Linked DNA regions of Homo sapiens. Each later gene encodes a partner of the first gene's protein in a complex. Each region holds a gene or a part of one and is shown on either strand. Other genes may lie near its edges.

Evidence for each region.
Region 2: EXOSC3 (region 1) and EXOSC5 share a complex: the UniProt entries of both Homo sapiens proteins name them as parts of the RNA exosome core complex.
Region 3: EXOSC3 (region 1) and EXOSC9 share a complex: the UniProt entries of both Homo sapiens proteins name them as parts of the RNA exosome core complex.

What each region holds. Positions count from the first base shown.
Region 1 is NC_000009.12:37,779,174-37,782,064, reverse strand, and holds the end of EXOSC3 (exosome complex component RRP40), read left to right. Parts: coding exon 1-79; intron 80-1,184; coding exon 1,185-1,386; 3' UTR 1,387-2,351; downstream 2,352-2,891. UniProt on the Homo sapiens protein: Non-catalytic component of the RNA exosome complex which has 3'->5' exoribonuclease activity and participates in a multitude of cellular RNA processing and degradation events.
Region 2 is NC_000019.10:41,387,320-41,394,359, reverse strand, and holds part of EXOSC5 (exosome complex component RRP46), read left to right. Parts: intron 1-1,379; coding exon 1,380-1,493; intron 1,494-2,397; coding exon 2,398-2,519; intron 2,520-4,454; coding exon 4,455-4,595; intron 4,596-6,756; coding exon 6,757-6,846; intron 6,847-7,040. UniProt on the Homo sapiens protein: Non-catalytic component of the RNA exosome complex which has 3'->5' exoribonuclease activity and participates in a multitude of cellular RNA processing and degradation events.
Region 3 is NC_000004.12:121,804,323-121,811,362, reverse strand, and holds part of EXOSC9 (exosome complex component RRP45), read right to left. Parts: intron 6,742-7,040; coding exon 6,604-6,741; intron 3,824-6,603; coding exon 3,741-3,823; intron 1,397-3,740; coding exon 1,264-1,396; intron 1-1,263. UniProt on the Homo sapiens protein: Non-catalytic component of the RNA exosome complex which has 3'->5' exoribonuclease activity and participates in a multitude of cellular RNA processing and degradation events.

The DNA.
Region 1 (2,891 bases):
GCTGTGGACGAGCCAATGGAATGGGTGTCATTGGACAGGATGGTCTGCTTTTTAAAGTGACTCTGGGCTTAATTAGAAAGTAAGTCCTGATGTCTGCTGGCTTGACTGCTTTTTATAATTATACATTCTTGGAAAGTTGGTTAATCTTCAGGATTCAGATTCTTTGTAACGTTTGAATTTCTCCTCAGAGTTAGAAATCAGTATCCATTTTAACACATTTGGAAACTCATGAATTTAATCCTATCTTCTTGGAAACATATCAAATTCAGATGTGTTTGGCTGTGTAGTTTCTGGTGGGCTGATACTTCATGCCTTAAGCTCTTACTCTGTATTCATATCTTCCTTCCCAGGCCTGTTGCTTATTTGACTTAGCCCAAATGTGAAAACTGGCCTTTCCCCTGTTCTGAGTCACTTGAATACAGATGCAGTCTGCAGTTGTATAAAATTATCAATTTTTTCTAATTATGGGGGTCACACGCAGCTTAGATTGTGATGTTCAAGGTTATGTAGACATTCACAGAAGGCTTCTGACACTTGGTCATACTGAGGCATACTGAGGTTCATGCTGAGGCAGATTCTCTTTTTGGTGTTTAGAACTTTACCCACCCAAAGCTGTGCCATATTCAGGGGCTTTACTCCTAGAGCCAGTGAAGTTGAGAGCTATCTTGTATGCCTCTCCTTACTACATATCCTAAAGATCTGGAGAATTAAGTTTGGACATCAGAGAAGCATGTTTTTAACCAAGAAGCATGTTATTAACCAAGCACCACCCTTATGGTTTGAAAGAGCCAATGTTCCTCTCCAAGTACTGAATTTAACACAAGAGAATAATATGGCCAGGAAAATAAGTTTAAAGTGTCTTAACACTGTAGATAAAAAAAGTTATGATTCCCAGTCTAGAATTAAAGTGCTCTGACCATCTAGGGGAATGACTTTTACAAAGTTGGTAACCTAGGGAGTTTGATTTCTTTGTAAGGCATAGCCCACCTCTGTGATTTCTAGTATACCTTTGAACAGTGTAAAGTTCCTTCTTGGAAGAAAGGAGGCAGCAAATGTCATCACGTGCCTTGTTCTTGTTGAACAGCTATGGAGAACTGCTCAGAAAAGGAATCACATTCTAAAGGAGACTCCGGACACACCTTTGCCACTTCATTAAATTTCATTTTCTTTTCTCTTCCCACCAGGCTATTAGCTCCAGATTGTGAAATCATACAGGAAGTGGGAAAACTCTATCCACTGGAGATAGTATTTGGAATGAATGGAAGAATATGGGTTAAGGCAAAAACCATCCAGCAGACTTTAATTTTGGCAAACATTTTAGAAGCTTGTGAACACATGACGTCAGATCAAAGAAAACAGATCTTCTCCAGATTGGCAGAAAGTTGATATAGGTGGACTTTTTTACAGGTCAGTTGAGGCAAAAAACTATGGGTTTTTTCAGGTGAACCTCCCCCATTTAAATACTCAGAAGATAAGGTGTGAATGTATGTATTATTAGAGTCCGAAAGTATTTTTATAAGTTACTGGTTTTCACCCACGCTTTTGTGGGAGAGAAAATCATTGCAAAATCATTTTTTTTGTTCGGTACAATAAAGTTTACTAAAAAACAGTATTAGGGTTTATTTGGAGTTAACTCCCTTAGTAATTGCTACAGCTTCCATAATTAACTGGAGGTCAGCAGTAAAATAATTTTGTGATTATAACAGTAAGCCAGGTTCACCAGAGGAAATGTGGAATACCTAAGTATAAAGCAGCAAAGAAATGTCACCTGTAGTCCCATTATTCAGCGGGTGAGTATATAACAACGAAATACTTTTTCATTTACCAAGTATTGTGTTTTGCATGGATTAACTCCTTTATTCTAACTGCAGAAGACACTTATCCTCATAATTGAAACTGAGGCACAGAATTTAACTTGGCCTACATTCTCTATATTCATCAAATTGAAATTATAGTTATTATAGCTTATATGCCACTTTGTAATATACTTTTGTCTACTTCAAACAGCATGATACATTTCACAACTTTAGTCACATATTTCATGTTACAGGATATTTTTGAGTTTTATCATTATATAAATAACACTATGAGGATTTCTGAATCCAAATCTGGCCAAGTCTTATTTTGCTAAAATCATTTCCTAGGAGCTAAGCATAGAAAACTCTTCTATGCTATTTAGTATATTAACCAAAACCTTTAGAGGTAAAGAGACTGCCAGGTGATCCACATCAGTGATTCTTGGTTTCTAGACCTCTGAGAATATGTGAGATACAGATCCCCTGAAGCCTATCCATAGAAAGTCCTTTTTGGATCAAAGAGATTATAGAACTCTATTTGTTGATAAAGACCAAGGAGCTTCGTGTGTTTCTAATGTTTTCTAAGGACTGGATGGTTTTTAGTTCAATAGCTTTTAGGGGTACAAGTGGTTTTGGATTACACGGATGAATTGTATAGTGGTGAAGTCTGAGATTTTGGTGTACCAGTCACCTGAGTACTATATATTGTACCCAGTATGTAGTTTATCCTTCCCCCTTCCCTGTTCCGGGTCTCCAGTATCTGTTATACCACTCTGTGTGCTTACCTGTAGCTTAGCTCCCACTTAAAGTGGGAACATTTGGTATTTGGTTTTCCATTCCTGAGTTACTTCACTAAGAATAATAGCTTCCAATACTATCCAAGTTGCTGCAAAAGACATTTTTTATGGCTAATATTCCATGGGATATATATACCACACTTTATCCATTCATTGGTTGATGGGTACTTAGGTTGGTCCCATATCTTTTATTATGAACTGTCTAGCCAGTTTTTAAATAGAAAAGTACTGATTAGGTGAACAGTTCCTTAGGAATTAAATTGTGAAGGGGAGGGGACACAGCAGAGAAGTAATCTGT
Region 2 (7,040 bases), on another chromosome or scaffold:
ATTGTCCAGGCTGGAGTGCAATGGTGTGATCTCGGCTCACTGCAACCTCCGCCTCCCCGGTTCCAGCAATTCTCCTGCGTCGGCCTCCCAAGTAGCTGAGATTACAGGCACCCACCACTATGCCCAGCTAATTTTTGTATCTTTAGTAGAGATAGGGTTTCACCATGTTGACTAGGATGGTCTCAAACTCCTGACCTCAGGTGATCCACCCACCTCAGCCTCCCAAAGTGCTGGGATTACAGCAGACAGTACTAGAAGCCAGGCTGTTTATTTCTTAGGTTTTACCTCCTGTACCCCGTTCATAGCTTCTGGGGAAATAAGGAATCAGGATTCATTCCAGATATTATCCCTTTCTCAGGTGTCCAGACTGATGCAAAATTTGGGGGCCAGTGCCTAAGGGAAGAGCTGGGCTGGGGAAGCTTTGGAAAGAGAAGTTGAGAGCAGCTGCAGTAAGAGGGAGGATGGTTAGCTTTCAGGAAGAACTTCCTGTTAAAAGTTACTAATACCAGCCGGGCACAGTGGCTCACGCCTGTAATCCCAGCGCTTTGGGAGGCGGGCAGATCATGAGGTCAGGAAGTTCGAGACCAGCCTGACCAACATGGTGAAACCCAGTCTCTACTAAAAATAAAAAAATTAGCCAGGTGTGGTGGCGCGCGCCTGTAATCCCAGCTACTCAGTAGGCTGAGGCAGGAGAACTGCTTGAACCCGGGAGGCAGAGGTTGCGGTGAGCCGAGATTACGCCACTGCACTCCAGCCTGGGCGACAGAGCAAGACTCCATCTCATTAAAAAAAAAAAAATTACTAATATCAGGGCCAGGCGTGGTAGCTCACGCCTGTAATCCTAGCACCTTGGGATTACAGTTGCCCAGGAGTTCGAAACCCGCCTGAGCAACATGGCAAAATCCCCTCTCTACTAAAAATATAAAAATTAGTCAGGCATGGTGGCACATGCCTGTAGTTCCAGCTACTTGGGAGGCTGAGGCGGGAGGATCACTTGAGCCCAGAAGGTCAAGGCTGCAATGAGCCGTGATGGCACCACTGCACTCCAGCCTGGGCAATGAGAGTGAGACCCTGCCTGAATGCCTGAATGGACGAATGTTACTAATACAGCTAAAGTCTGTTGCACATTCAGCGTGAGCCCCGCAGTGTTCTAAGTGTTTTCTGTGAATTGTGTCCTTTGATCCTCACAAGACGCTAGCGGGGAGGGACTGCTATTTTCCCCATTTTACAAATGAGAGAAATGAAGTGAGTGCTCAAAGAATCAGTACCAACAAATGGCGGGGGTGACGTGGGGAGCCCTGGCCGTCAGGCTCAGTGCCACAAATGGGGCCCCAGGAGCAGGGAAGCTGTGAGTGAGGCCCTCCCTGCTGTCTCCTCAGGTGACACCTCTGTCCTGGCGGGTGTGTACGGGCCGGCCGAGGTGAAGGTCAGCAAAGAGATTTTCAACAAGGCCACACTCGAAGTGATCCTGAGGCCGAAGATTGGGCTGCCTGGTAATTGGGCCCTGCTGAACCTCTGAGTGGTGCCCAGTTTGTCAAAATCACCCCCCCAGCTCCTCCCTACCAGCTGCCCCGAGTCTCCACTCCCCGCTTGGGTCTCCACTCAGCTGTTTCTGTCTTTAACTCTCCGCCTCTAATTAATAACTCATCTTCTGTTGCTTCTCTCTCTGCCTCTAATTTCTCCCTCCCTCTTTTCTCCCTCTCTCTGCCTCCACTCTCATTCATTCCATTAACCTGTTTTTCTTTTATTTATTTTTATTTATTTATTTTTTTTTTGGAGACAGTGTCTCGCTCTGTCACCCCGGCTGGAGTGCAGTGGCACGATCTCAGCTCACTGCAACCTCTGCCTCCCAGATTCAAGCAATTCCCCTGGCTCAGCCTCCCGAGTCGCTGGGATTACAGGCACGTGCCACCATGCCCACTAATTTTTTGTATTTTTTTAGTAGAGATGGGGTTTCACCATGTTGGCCAGGATGGTCTTGATCTCCTGACCTCAAGTGATCCGCCCGCCTCAGCCCCCCAAAGTGTTGGGATTACAGGCGCGAGCCACTGTGCCTGGACCATTAACCTGTTTTTCCACCCTTTTACCCTCATATCCCTCAGTCCCCACTGACTGGACCTGCTAGGGTGGGAGTGGGCGTGGGTAGCAGCACAGACATGGAACTCCCAGGTCTTCTTCCCTTGGATGGTTCCCTTGGTGGATGCTGGAGGTAGCAGGGGTCAGTGGATGGCAGTCAGGCCTTGCCTTCTTCCCACTGGAATCTTCCATCATCCCTGCAGGTAACTGCACCATCCCAGGCTGAGACCGTGAGCCCTTTCTGGGAATTTGGGTGAGGCGTATGGAGGAAGGTGAGTCAAATGAAGGGGAAGACCCTGAACCTCTCTTCAATTTCCCCAGGTGTTGCAGAGAAGAGCCGGGAGCGGCTGATCAGGAACACGTGCGAGGCGGTGGTGCTGGGCACGTTGCACCCCCGCACCTCCATCACCGTGGTGCTGCAGGTTGTCAGCGATGCCGGCTCTGTATCCTTTCTGCCAGGCCTCCTCCTCCAGGAAGTCTCCTGATTGCTTCCCTCCTGGCGGATACATATACCCTCACTGCTAGCCAGAAAGCCTTCAAACACTTGACAGGTACCAGCTCACTGAAGAAGGAGAGCAAACAGCCTGGGTGCTTACTTATGTGCCAGGCACTGTTCTGTGTGCCTTATGCACATTAACTCATGTAATATAGCACATGCCCTTATGATCCCCGTGGAAGTGGCAGAGCCAAGACTTAGACCCAGACCGTCTAGTTCTAGAGCCCACGGACCCTGGCAGATGAGTGTTCTTATGTTCGCATGTTTCAGGTGACAAAACTGAGGCCCAGAGAGGGGAAGGGGCTTGCCCAAGGTCACACAGCTGGAAGGCAGCACAGGCAGGACTCAAGCCCAGGCCAGTCTGACTCCAGAGCCTGTGCCAATCACTTCTTTTGTTTTTTGGGTTTTTTTGTTTGTTTTTGAGACAGGCTCTCACTCTGTCACCCAGGCTGGATGCAGTGGTGCAATGTCAGCTTACTGCAACCTCTACCTCCCGGGCTCAAGCGATTCCCATGCTTTAGCCTCCTGAATTACAGGTGGAATTACAGGTGCCTGCCACCACGCCAGGCTAATTTTTGTATTTTTAGTAGAGACGGGGTTTTGCTGTGTTGGCCAGGCTGGTCTCGAACTCCTGACCTCGAGTGATCAGTCCACCTTGGCCTCCCAAAGTGCTGGGGTTACAGGCATGAGCTACTGTGCCCGGCTGGCAATCACTTCTACTCGGCACCTCAGTGGATTTCAGGCCCTCAGTGCTGGGGGCGCCCTGAGCAGACAGCAGCTGAGTCAGGAGCGTGGCCTTGTAAGATCTCCATGTCTGAGGTGCGAGAGGTTGAGGTTGAGGACTAGAATTAGACACTGTAGAAGGCTTTACTGGAACGTGGCCCTGAACTGGACAGACATTTTATGGATGGGCAGAGAGAGAAGGTATTGTGACCCCATTTTACAGAAGTGGAAAGTGAAGCCCAGAGGAAGGCGTGGAGGATCAGCAGCAGAGCTGGAACCGGTTGACTAAAGCTGTGGTCTTTGTCTGGCTGCTAGGCCTGGAGAAGAAACACATTAGGAAACTGAGGCAGAGCCAGCTGACTCCCAACCTGTGCTCTCTTTCCACTGTGAGCTTCCTGCAGGCAGCAGCGAGGTGGCTCTTCCTCCATTGCCCTGCCAGCTCTGTCACCGGGGAGTGGCTGCTACCCAAGTTTCGGGCCTGGCTTTGCCAGTGCCTCCCCCTCGTGTCTTTGGAAGGTTTCTTCCCCTCTCTGACCCTATTTGCCAACAAATGTGTGGTACGTACTTCAGTACATACCTATTGAATATTATTATATTCCCCATCTAACAGATGAGGAGATTGAGACTCAAGGAGTAAGTCACTTGTTCAAGGTCACACAGCTGAGCAAAACTAGGTCTGGAACCCAGGGCTACTTGATCCCCGGACCACTTTTAACCACTCTGCCATACTGCCCTTCTGTGACCGATTAGTGATGTCTGCCATAGGCATCAGCCTGGTGGAGGGAGGCATGGATCTGCTCTGCTGGCCAGGCCTACAGTAGAAACTTCTTAGGCTGGGCGTGGTGGCTCATGCCTGTAATCCCAGCACTTTGGGAGGCCGAGGCAGGTGGATCACCTGAGGTCAGGAGTTTTCAGACCAGCCTGGCCAACATAGTGAAACCCCATCTCTACTAAAAATACAAAGATTAGCCGGGTGTGGTGGTGGGTGCCTGTAATCCCAGCTACTCAGGAGGCTGAGGCAGGAGAATTGCTTGAACCCAGGAGGTGGAGGTTGCAGTGAGCCGAGATCACACCATTGCACTCCAGCCTGGGCAACAAGAGCGAAACTCCATCTCCAAAAAAAAAAAAAAGAAACTTAACCATTTCCTGTGGTGCTCAGCTCCTGGCCTGTTGTCTGAATGCCGCCTGCATGGCATTGGTGGATGCAGGTGTGCCCATGCGGGCTCTCTTCTGTGGGGTCGCCTGCGCCCTGGACTCTGATGGGACCCTCGTGCTGGATCCTACATCCAAGCAAGAAAAGGTAGGTGTGAAGACCAGGGTGGCTGAAGGGCAGAGGCCAGACAGCTGCCCGTCCCTTCCTCCAGGCCTCGCTTCTCTACAGACAGTCGGCTCATGCCACCTCAATCCCACTTAGCAAGGGCTGCTCTAATCATCATGGTTCATTTAGCAGCAAGTGCTGGAAACCCAGCTCAGACTTGCTTAATTAGGAAGGAAATGTGGGGCCGGGAGCGGTGGCTCACGCCTGTAATCCCAGCACTTTGGGAGGCTGAGGTGGGTGGATCACCTGAGGTCGGGAGTTCGAGATCAGTCTGACCAACATGGAGAAACCCCATCTCTACTAAAAATACAAAATTAGCCAGGTGTGGTGGCGCACGCCTGTAATCCCAGCTACTCAGGAGGCTGAGGCAGGAGAATCGCTTGAACCCAGGACGCGGAGGTTGTGGTGAGCCGAGATCGCGCCATTGCACTCCAGCCTGGGCAATAAGAGTGAAACTCCATCTCAAAAAATATAAATAAATAAACTAGAAAGGAAATGTATGGCCAGGTGTGGTGGCTCACACCTGTAATGCCAGCACTTTGGGAGTCTGAGGCAGGCAGATCACCTGAGGCTGGGAGTTGAAGACCAGCCTGGCCAACATTGCAAAACCCTGTCTCTACTAAAAATACAAAGGTTAGCTAGGCATGGTGGCACACATCTGTAATCTCAGCTACTCAGGAGGCTGAGGCAGGAGAATCACTTAAACCTGGAGGGTGGAGGTTACAGTGAGCTGAGATCGCACCACTTCACTCCAGCCTGGATGAAAGAGTGAAACTCTCAAAAATAAAATAAAATAAAACCAGGACTTTAAACACCATCAGGATGTCCTTGCTTCACTTCTCGTCCCTGCCTTTCTCTGCACATCAGCTTCATTCTTTCTGGCCAGCACCTTTCCTGAGGCTGGGACTGACCCCTTAAGCTCCATTTCCATCCTAGGAGGCTCAAAAGCAAACGAGAAGAGAGTTTTCCTCATCGGCTCAGGTGCAGTGTCCTAAGCTCAAGTTATTCTGAGTTTTCTGCCCAGTGCTATAATGGTCCCCTCTAGTCAAGAAGACGGAAACCACTTGGAGGGTTTCAGATGGAGGGAGTTAAATGCAGGGACTTTGTAACAACAGTGTTGAGGAACTAGAGGAGGAAAAAGGAAGCAGGAGTGACACCCAGAGATGAGAAACCCCTCCCAGACCTGGACTGAACCTGCGAGCCACCTCCTGTTCTGTCGTGTTGGAGACATCATCTCAATTGGTTCTGGATGCACATAGCATGTCCTGCTTCTGCCCTGGCCACTGAGGTCCAGAACCCACCCCACCTCCATGGCTGTCACACAGCCACAGCCATCAGCACCTGCCATTGTCCATGAGGACCAGGGTGCTGCTTTTCTTCCATTCTCCCACCTCATTACTGATGGAAACTAGCTGGTAAGGGAGTCTGGGAAATACAGCTTGCTGGCTTCCAGCCCCTGTGGGACAGAGCATGGAAGGGGGACTGGGAGGCCGAGAGGTACCAGATAAGTGAGTGGCACTATGGCTAGCCCCTTGGGGCAGGAATACTGAGCTTGGAAGCCCCTGTCAGAACCACGTGGTTGGAATAAGGGGCATGGAGTACAGTTCTACAAAGGAAAGGCAGAGGGCTATACCCAGGGAAGTAGGGAAGGGGTAGCGTAGACAAAAAATGGCTGCGCTTGATGCTTGATAGGTGAGCGCCTGGCTATGGAAAGGGAGAGGCCTGGAGGCCAAGGGTCCGGAGTCCCCTCAGTGGGACTGGCTGCAAGTGTGTGGTGGGAAGGGGAGCGTTGAGACAGGGTCTCACTGTCGCCCATGCTGGAGTGTAGTACGATCACAGCTCACTGCAGCTTCAAACTCCTGGGCTCAAGCAGTCCTCCCACCTCTGCCTCCTGAGTAGCTGGGAACTCAGACATGCACCCCCACACCCAGCTACCTTTTTTTTTTTTTTTTTTCTGAGATGGGGTCTCCCTCTGTTGCCCAGATTGGTCTTGAGTTTCTGGCCTCAAGCAGTGCCCTGCCTTGGCCTCCCAAAGTGGTGAGATTATGGTCATGAGCCACTGTGCCTGGCCAAAGGACTGGCTGAGATTTTATCTGAGGGGAAGGTCCTAGGTCCCCCACCGCCTTCTACCCCTTGTCCCTAGGAGGCCCGGGCAGTCCTGACCTTTGCCCTGGACAGCGTGGAACGGAAGCTGCTGATGTCCAGCACCAAGGGGCTCTACTCAGACACTGAGGTACCAGCATGGGGATGAGGGGAAAAGCCAGAACCTTCCTTCCCACTGACATACGGTCTTGTCCCAACTCTGCCCTGGATTCTGAGAGGCTTCAGGAGAGCCTCTTAAATTTCTTCTTGTAAAAAGGGAGTTTTCAAACTTTGTGGACCCAGAAACCTTTGCGGAAATGTTTAAGGGAAGCCCAATTTATAACA
Region 3 (7,040 bases), on another chromosome or scaffold:
ACAGTATAAAAGATACCACAGAAGAGGCCACAGACACATATATGCTCCAGGATGCACTAACTTCCTTTTTCTGTGGGTAATCTGGGTAGTACTTGTGATGCTGGTAAAGATGATGATGATGATACCAGAAACTAACATTTATTGCACACTTAATAAATGTGTGCTAGACACTGTGCAATATATTTATATCCTTATAACAACAAGGTGTTGGCAATAACATCATTCCCTATTTTACAGATAAAGAAAGTGAGACCCAAAGATATAAAATCATTTGCCCAAGATCAGCTAGTATGGGGGCAGAACTAGAATTCAAACTAAAGAAGCTTTTAATCATCTACACTGTATGCTATATGGAGATCTATTTTCTAAAAGCTCCCATGTGAATATGATATATAGCTGGGTTTCAGAACTACTGCCAATTGTAGTTCTAAAAGTGCAAGTAAAACTATCTTTTTACATAATGTCTACTATTGGATGTTTAAAAATTTTTATTTGCTTTTGAGACAGGGTCTCATTCCGTAGCCCAGGCTGGAATGCAGTGACACGATCTCAGCTCACTCAACCTCCACCTCCTAGGCTCAAGCAATCCTCCCACCTCAGCCTCCCAAGTGGCCAGGACCACACGCATGCACCACCAAGCTCGGCTAATATTTATTTATTTATTTTATTTTTTATTTTTTCAGATGGAATTTTGCTGTTGTTGCCCAGACTGGAGAACAATGGCACGATCTCAGCTCACTGCAACCTCTGCCTCCCGGATTCAAGCAATTCTCCTGCCTCAGCCTCCCAAGTAGCTGGGATTACAGGCGTGCGCCAGCCACCACACCCAGCTAATTTTGTATTTTTAGTAGAGATGGGTTTCACCATGTTGGCCAGGCTGGTCTTGAACTCCTGACCTCAAGTGATCCACCAGCCACGGCCTCCCAAAGTGCTGGGATTACAGGCGTAAGCCAACATGCCCGGCCACTTTTTTTTTTTTTTTAATAGGGATATAAATCTTTTTCTTCACTAGACCCTGCTTCTAGGTGGAAGGGTCAGACTCCAGCAGGCCAGACACGGGAGCACCAAGGTAGGAAGGAGGAGGATACCTCATAGCCACCAGTCAACAGAATGTATTTAATAGTGACAGTACTGAAACCAGATTCTAACACATCCTAGAATAAATCACTGGAAGTATCCCCATTGGATTTTTGTTAAAAGACAAGAAAAAGCATCTAAAGAGAAGCAACCTATTATTAATGGGACATTAATCAAAGCACTAACTTGATCTTTTAGTAGCATTATCCCACCACTGGACTGGATAGTACAAATCTCTCGATGTTTGTTCATGGCAATCACCAGCAAGCCATCCATCACACGTTCTTCTCGTTCATTGGGATCCACCAATAAATATGTTCTGAAATGAATGTTAAATGGACCTGAACAAATCTGAGACCGAATGCTTACCATTTCTTGGGTAATGAATTTTTAAAAGATGGCATCAATAAAGTCAACAGAGAATAAAGGTCTGAGCCTACGGATTTGGGTCACTGAAATGGGGAAAGAGACAAGAAAATTATTGTGTTTATGAACACAAATGAATGCTAAGTGGGTATCTCTAGTTATTACAATGAAATCACATTAAGTTCAGATTGGATTTACTTAAATGATATATAATCTAAACCTAATGCTATCTCTTTGATTAAATGACTTCTGGCTCATTAATAAAAACTTAGATAATGTTAAATTGGTTAACCCTAAAGTTGCCCTAATGTCCTGTACTCCAAAGTTCTACTGCGTTCTGCTAATGGCTCATGAAAAAAATACTGTCTATTTCTGCACTGTCCGGTACATTTGCCAATAGTCACCTGTGGTTACTGAGCCCTTGAAATGTAATCAGAGTATGTAAAATATTGGATTTCAGAGACTTAGTGGAAACAAAAGAATGTAGACTATCTCATGAGTAATTATTAAAATACTGATTATTTCATTAATCATTTTATTTCATTAACGTGAAAATATATTAATTAAAAATATATAAAAATTAATTTTACCTTTTTAATGTGACTACTGGAAAATATTAAATTACACATATGAGGCCAGGCATGGTGGCTCATGCTTGTAATCCCAGCACTTTGGGAGGTCAGGACTGCAAGATCACTTGAGCTCATGAGTTTGGGACCAGCCTGGGCAACAAAGTGAGACCCTGTCTCTACAAAAAAAATTTTTTTAAATTAGCTGGGTATGCCACACACCTATAGTCCCAGCTACTTGGAAGGCTGAGGTGGGAGGATCACTTGAGCTCAGAAGTAGGCTGCAGTGAGCTATGATCACACCACTGCACTCCAGCCTGGGTGAGAGTGAGACCCTGTCACAAAAAAATAAAAAAAAAATTTAAAAAGTAACAAATGCTGCGCATGGTGGCTCAAGCCTATAATCCTAGCACTTTGGGAGGTGGAGATAGGCGGATCACTTGAGCCCAGGAGCTTCAGACCATCCTGGGCAACGTAGTGAAATCCCATCTCTACAAAAAATAAAGAAATTAGCTGGGCATGGTGTGCACCTGTGGTCCCAGCTACTCAGGAGGCTGAGGCAGGAGAATCACTTGAGCCTGAGAGGTTGAGGCTGCAATAAAACATGATCACGCCACTGCACTCAAGCCTGGGTGACAGAGGGAGACCTTGTCTTAAAAAAAAAAAAGAAAAGAAAAGAAAAAGAAACAGCCAGGCATGGTGGCTCATCCCCGTAATCCAGCATTTTGGGAGGCTGAGGTAGCTAGATCACTTTTGAACTCAGGAGTTCCAGACCAGCCTGGGCAATATGGCAAAACCTCTTTTTTACAAAAAAAATACAAAAATTAGCTAGGCATGGTGGTGCATGCCTGTAGTCTCAACTACTCGGAAGGCTGAGGCTGAAGAATTCATTGAGCCCAGAAAGCAGAGGTTGTAATGAGCAAAAATCACGCTGCTGAAATCCAAATTGGGCAACAAAGCCAGACCTCATCTCAAAAAAAAGAAGAAAATAAGAAAATTATATATATGGTTCACATTTTATTTCTACTGGACAATGCTGGCCCATTTTCCTCTGATAAAACTCTACACTTACAATCACTAAAACTTGTAAGTGTTTCTCTAGTCCTTGTGCACAACACTGTGTGAAATATTTTTATCTTCCCTTGTTTCTAAAGGAATTTAAGGCTCAAGTTTTCATTTGAAAGCACCATTAAATGGACCTGAAAAACTCCAAGTTTTCTGCCACAGGAGGATTTAGCAGTTAAGTAATGAAAACGCTGGAAAACTTAAGAACATTAGATTTTTTTCCTCCAGTCTGTGAACCATCCCCCCTTGTAACCGACTCCTAGAACTACTCCATCTAATATGTTCCAAAGTCCCCTATCTTCCAATAACCCACAGTAATTCTCACCCCACTGTCCCAAATTAGAGCCTAGCATATAATTCTCTTAACCACTGTACAGCCTTAGGAAACATAAAACACTACCATGCCATAGTAAATTCCTAAGTTTATAAGTATCCCATGAAAAGAAAAATGTTGGGAAGTATCTTCATCAAAGTATAAGAGTTTTGTTACTTCTACTGAGAAAGTTCTTTGCCAACTAATGCCCTTACAAAGAAAGAAAGGAAATACAAGGTGCTTTACTATTAAGGGAAGTGTTTGTTTAATATTAACATGACATACTTGAGTAGAGCAATAAAATTCCTAGCTGCATTTGTAATTTTGGCCCATAATAAGGCGAGGCTTACCCTTGCTGGAAAAAGGCAAAACTGACACAAATGGGCATGTGGTGGATACTTAATGGTACAGGATCACGCTCTTCAGGTGTATACTGTTTCAAAAGAAAATGTTTAATAATTATAGTCACTAAGTTATGAACATCCAAAAAAATCATCTTGCACATCAAATACTAAAAAATGAAGTTCCTTTATTCTTTTGAGTACCTAAATAACTTCTTTTAATTAATTACCAGTTTGATTTTGCCACTCACGTTCCTCAAACTGTACAACTTTTTCAAAAAGCTTTTTCAAAAATTTACTGACACATAATTTACATCCCATAAAATCCACTTTTTTTTTTGGAGATGAAGTTTCACTCTTGTTGCCCAGGCTGGAGTGCAATGGCAAGATGTCAGCTCCCGGCAACCTCCGCCTCCTGGGCTCATGCGATTCTCCTATGTCAGCCTCCCAAGTAGGTGGGATTACAGGCATGTGCCACCACGCCCGGCTAATTTTGTATTTTTAGTAGACGGGGTTTCTCCATGTTGGTCAGGCTGGTCTCGAACTCCCAACCTGAGGTGATCCACCTGCCTTGGCCTCCCAAAGTGCTGGAATTACAGGTGTGAGCCACCACGCCCAGCCAAAATCCACTCATTTTAAGTATATGATTCAATTTTTAGTAAATGTATAGTTATGGATACATTTACGGACCCATCACCACAATCTAGTTTTTTAACATTTCCATTACTCCCCAAAATTCCTTTGAATCTGTCTGTAGTCCGTAGGAGTCTGGTGTACTCCCACCCTAGCCCCAAGGAATCACTGATCTATCTTATTTCTGTCTCTATAAATCTGACTTTCTGAGCATTCTATATAAATGGAAAAAAAAAAAGTTGTAATGTTTTGTGCCTGGCTTCTTTCAACTTAGCATGTTTCATGCACCTTGCAGCATTTATCAGTAGTTCAGTTCTTTTCATTACTGAACAGCATTCCATTATTTGTATATATGACATTTTATCTATTCACCAGCTGGACATTTGGATTGTTTCCAGTTTCTGGCTAACAAATGATGCTATGAACACTTGCATTGAAGTCTCTGAACGTAGTAAGCTCTTATTCCTCCCGTAGATTCTTAGGCATGGAATTGCTAGAATTTTTTTTTTTTTTTCTAATTTTAAGCCATTGCAGTTTGTTTTAACATTATAAGGTCGGCTGGGGGCAGTGGCTCACGTCTGTAATCCCAGCACTTTGGAAGGCCGATGTGGACGAGGTTGGGAGTTCAAGACCAGCCTGACCAACATGGAGAAACCCTGTCTCTACTAAAAATACAAAATTAGCCAGGCGTGGTTGCACATGCCTGCAATCCCAGCTACTTGGGAGGCTGAGGCAGGAGAATCGCTTGAATCCGGGAGGCGGAGGCTGCAGTGAGCCGAGATCACGCCATTGTACTCTAGCCTAGGCAACAACAGTGAAACTTTGTCTCAAAAGAAAAAAAAAAAATTACAAGGTCAAACCTGCTGAAAGATGTACATATAAGAGAGTGTTTTCAGCTGGGCATGGTGGCTCATGCCTGTAATCCCAACAGTTTGGGAGGCCAAGGTGGGAGGATCACTTGAGCCCAGGAGTTCGAGACCAGCCTGGGCAATTTGGTGAAACCATATCTCTACAAAAAATACAAAAATTAGTCAAGTGGGTGGCACATACCTGTAGTCCCCACTACTCAGGAGACTGAGGTGGGAGGATTGCTTAAGTCCAGGAGGCAGAGGTTACAGTGAGCCGAGATCACGCCACTGCACCCCAGCCTGGACAACGGAGTGAGATCCTGTCTCAAAAAAAAAAAAAAGAAAAAAAAAAAAGAATATTTTCTTCTACTGTTATTTTTCTGAATATAGAATGCTGTCTACACTTAAAACTTAAGCTACCAAACTTTTCCAACATGGCTGTACCATTTTACATTCCCACTAGCAATAACACCACAGTATTCTTTAATTGATTTTTCAAGTGTAGTAATCGCTTTCTACTTTTTTTCACTTCCTTATATAAACTCCCTCCTCTAAAAGAATATTACCTCTACTGTTAATAAACCTTTGTCCCTATTTCTCACTTTTTAATGGTTCTGCTTCAGTCTACTGCCCAAAATCAAAATTATGAATCATTGCTTAGAAAATCTGGGCATCTGATGTGTCCTTTTGCAACTTCAGGATTCAAACTACAACTACAGTGCACTTTCACTATTCTAGCATGTAATTTATATAAATCAAAACTGACATACTCAGAACAAAAGATAAAGACAACGTAGGTCAATGGTTTTCAAAATGTGCTCCCTGGACCAGCAACATCAGTATTACCTAAGAACTCAAAGTTAGAAGTACAAAATCTTAAGTCCTAGCCCTGTTTTACTTTGGGAGTAGTCTGGCTATACGTTTTAACAAGCCCTCCAGGTATTTCTGATGGACTTTCGTCATCTCTTTGCCTAATGAACAAAAGTCCTGGAGACAAATATGAACCTGCTGATTCCTCAGTGCTTTTCAGCTATTGCATGCCTCTTGCAGGGTAAGCATCTCACTGTGCTGAGATTCATGTATTTTTCACACATATGGCCCCTAAACATAAGTCAACCACTTCATCTAATGTTCAATCCAAAATAGTCATCTAATTCTATTCTGGAAAACCAGGCTAGGGTATGTTCTTACTGACAAATGTTTCAACAGAGGAACGGTTAAGAGATTTCCAGGGCAATTTTGACCATATGCAGTTTCAGTCTTACAAACAAATTTTTAGAAACGACCCAATTGCCATCTACAACATAACTTCACTAAAAACAAGTTGCCTGCACATTTAAGACCCTCCTCATTCATTCATATCAAGGATCCTGGTTCACATAGGAGCTTACCAGTGTTACTTCATCTCCTTGGACAGAGACATCAGGTCTTCGGAAATGACATAAGGCCACGATTGCAGCAATGCTGGCAGCATCAATAATATTTCCATCATGATTTAATAAATGTAGGTCTACACGTATTTGCCAAACCTGATAGTGAATTTAAAATAAAAATAAATCCTAACTGATTACAACCAGTGGCTATTTATCAGGAAAAGTAACATTGTGTACAAATTATTTTTTCTTGCTGTTAAAACACGCAGTTACTCCTTGTACTTTGTCAACAAAAAATATATTTTAGAAAATTTAAGCCAAACATCTGAAATACTATGTGGGTCGTTTAACAACAGAACACATACTTTAAATAAACAGAACCACTCTAACATTTAATACTACGATTTTCCTAACCTCAAATCTAATTACATTTTTATCATGTCTGTTAAAAACCA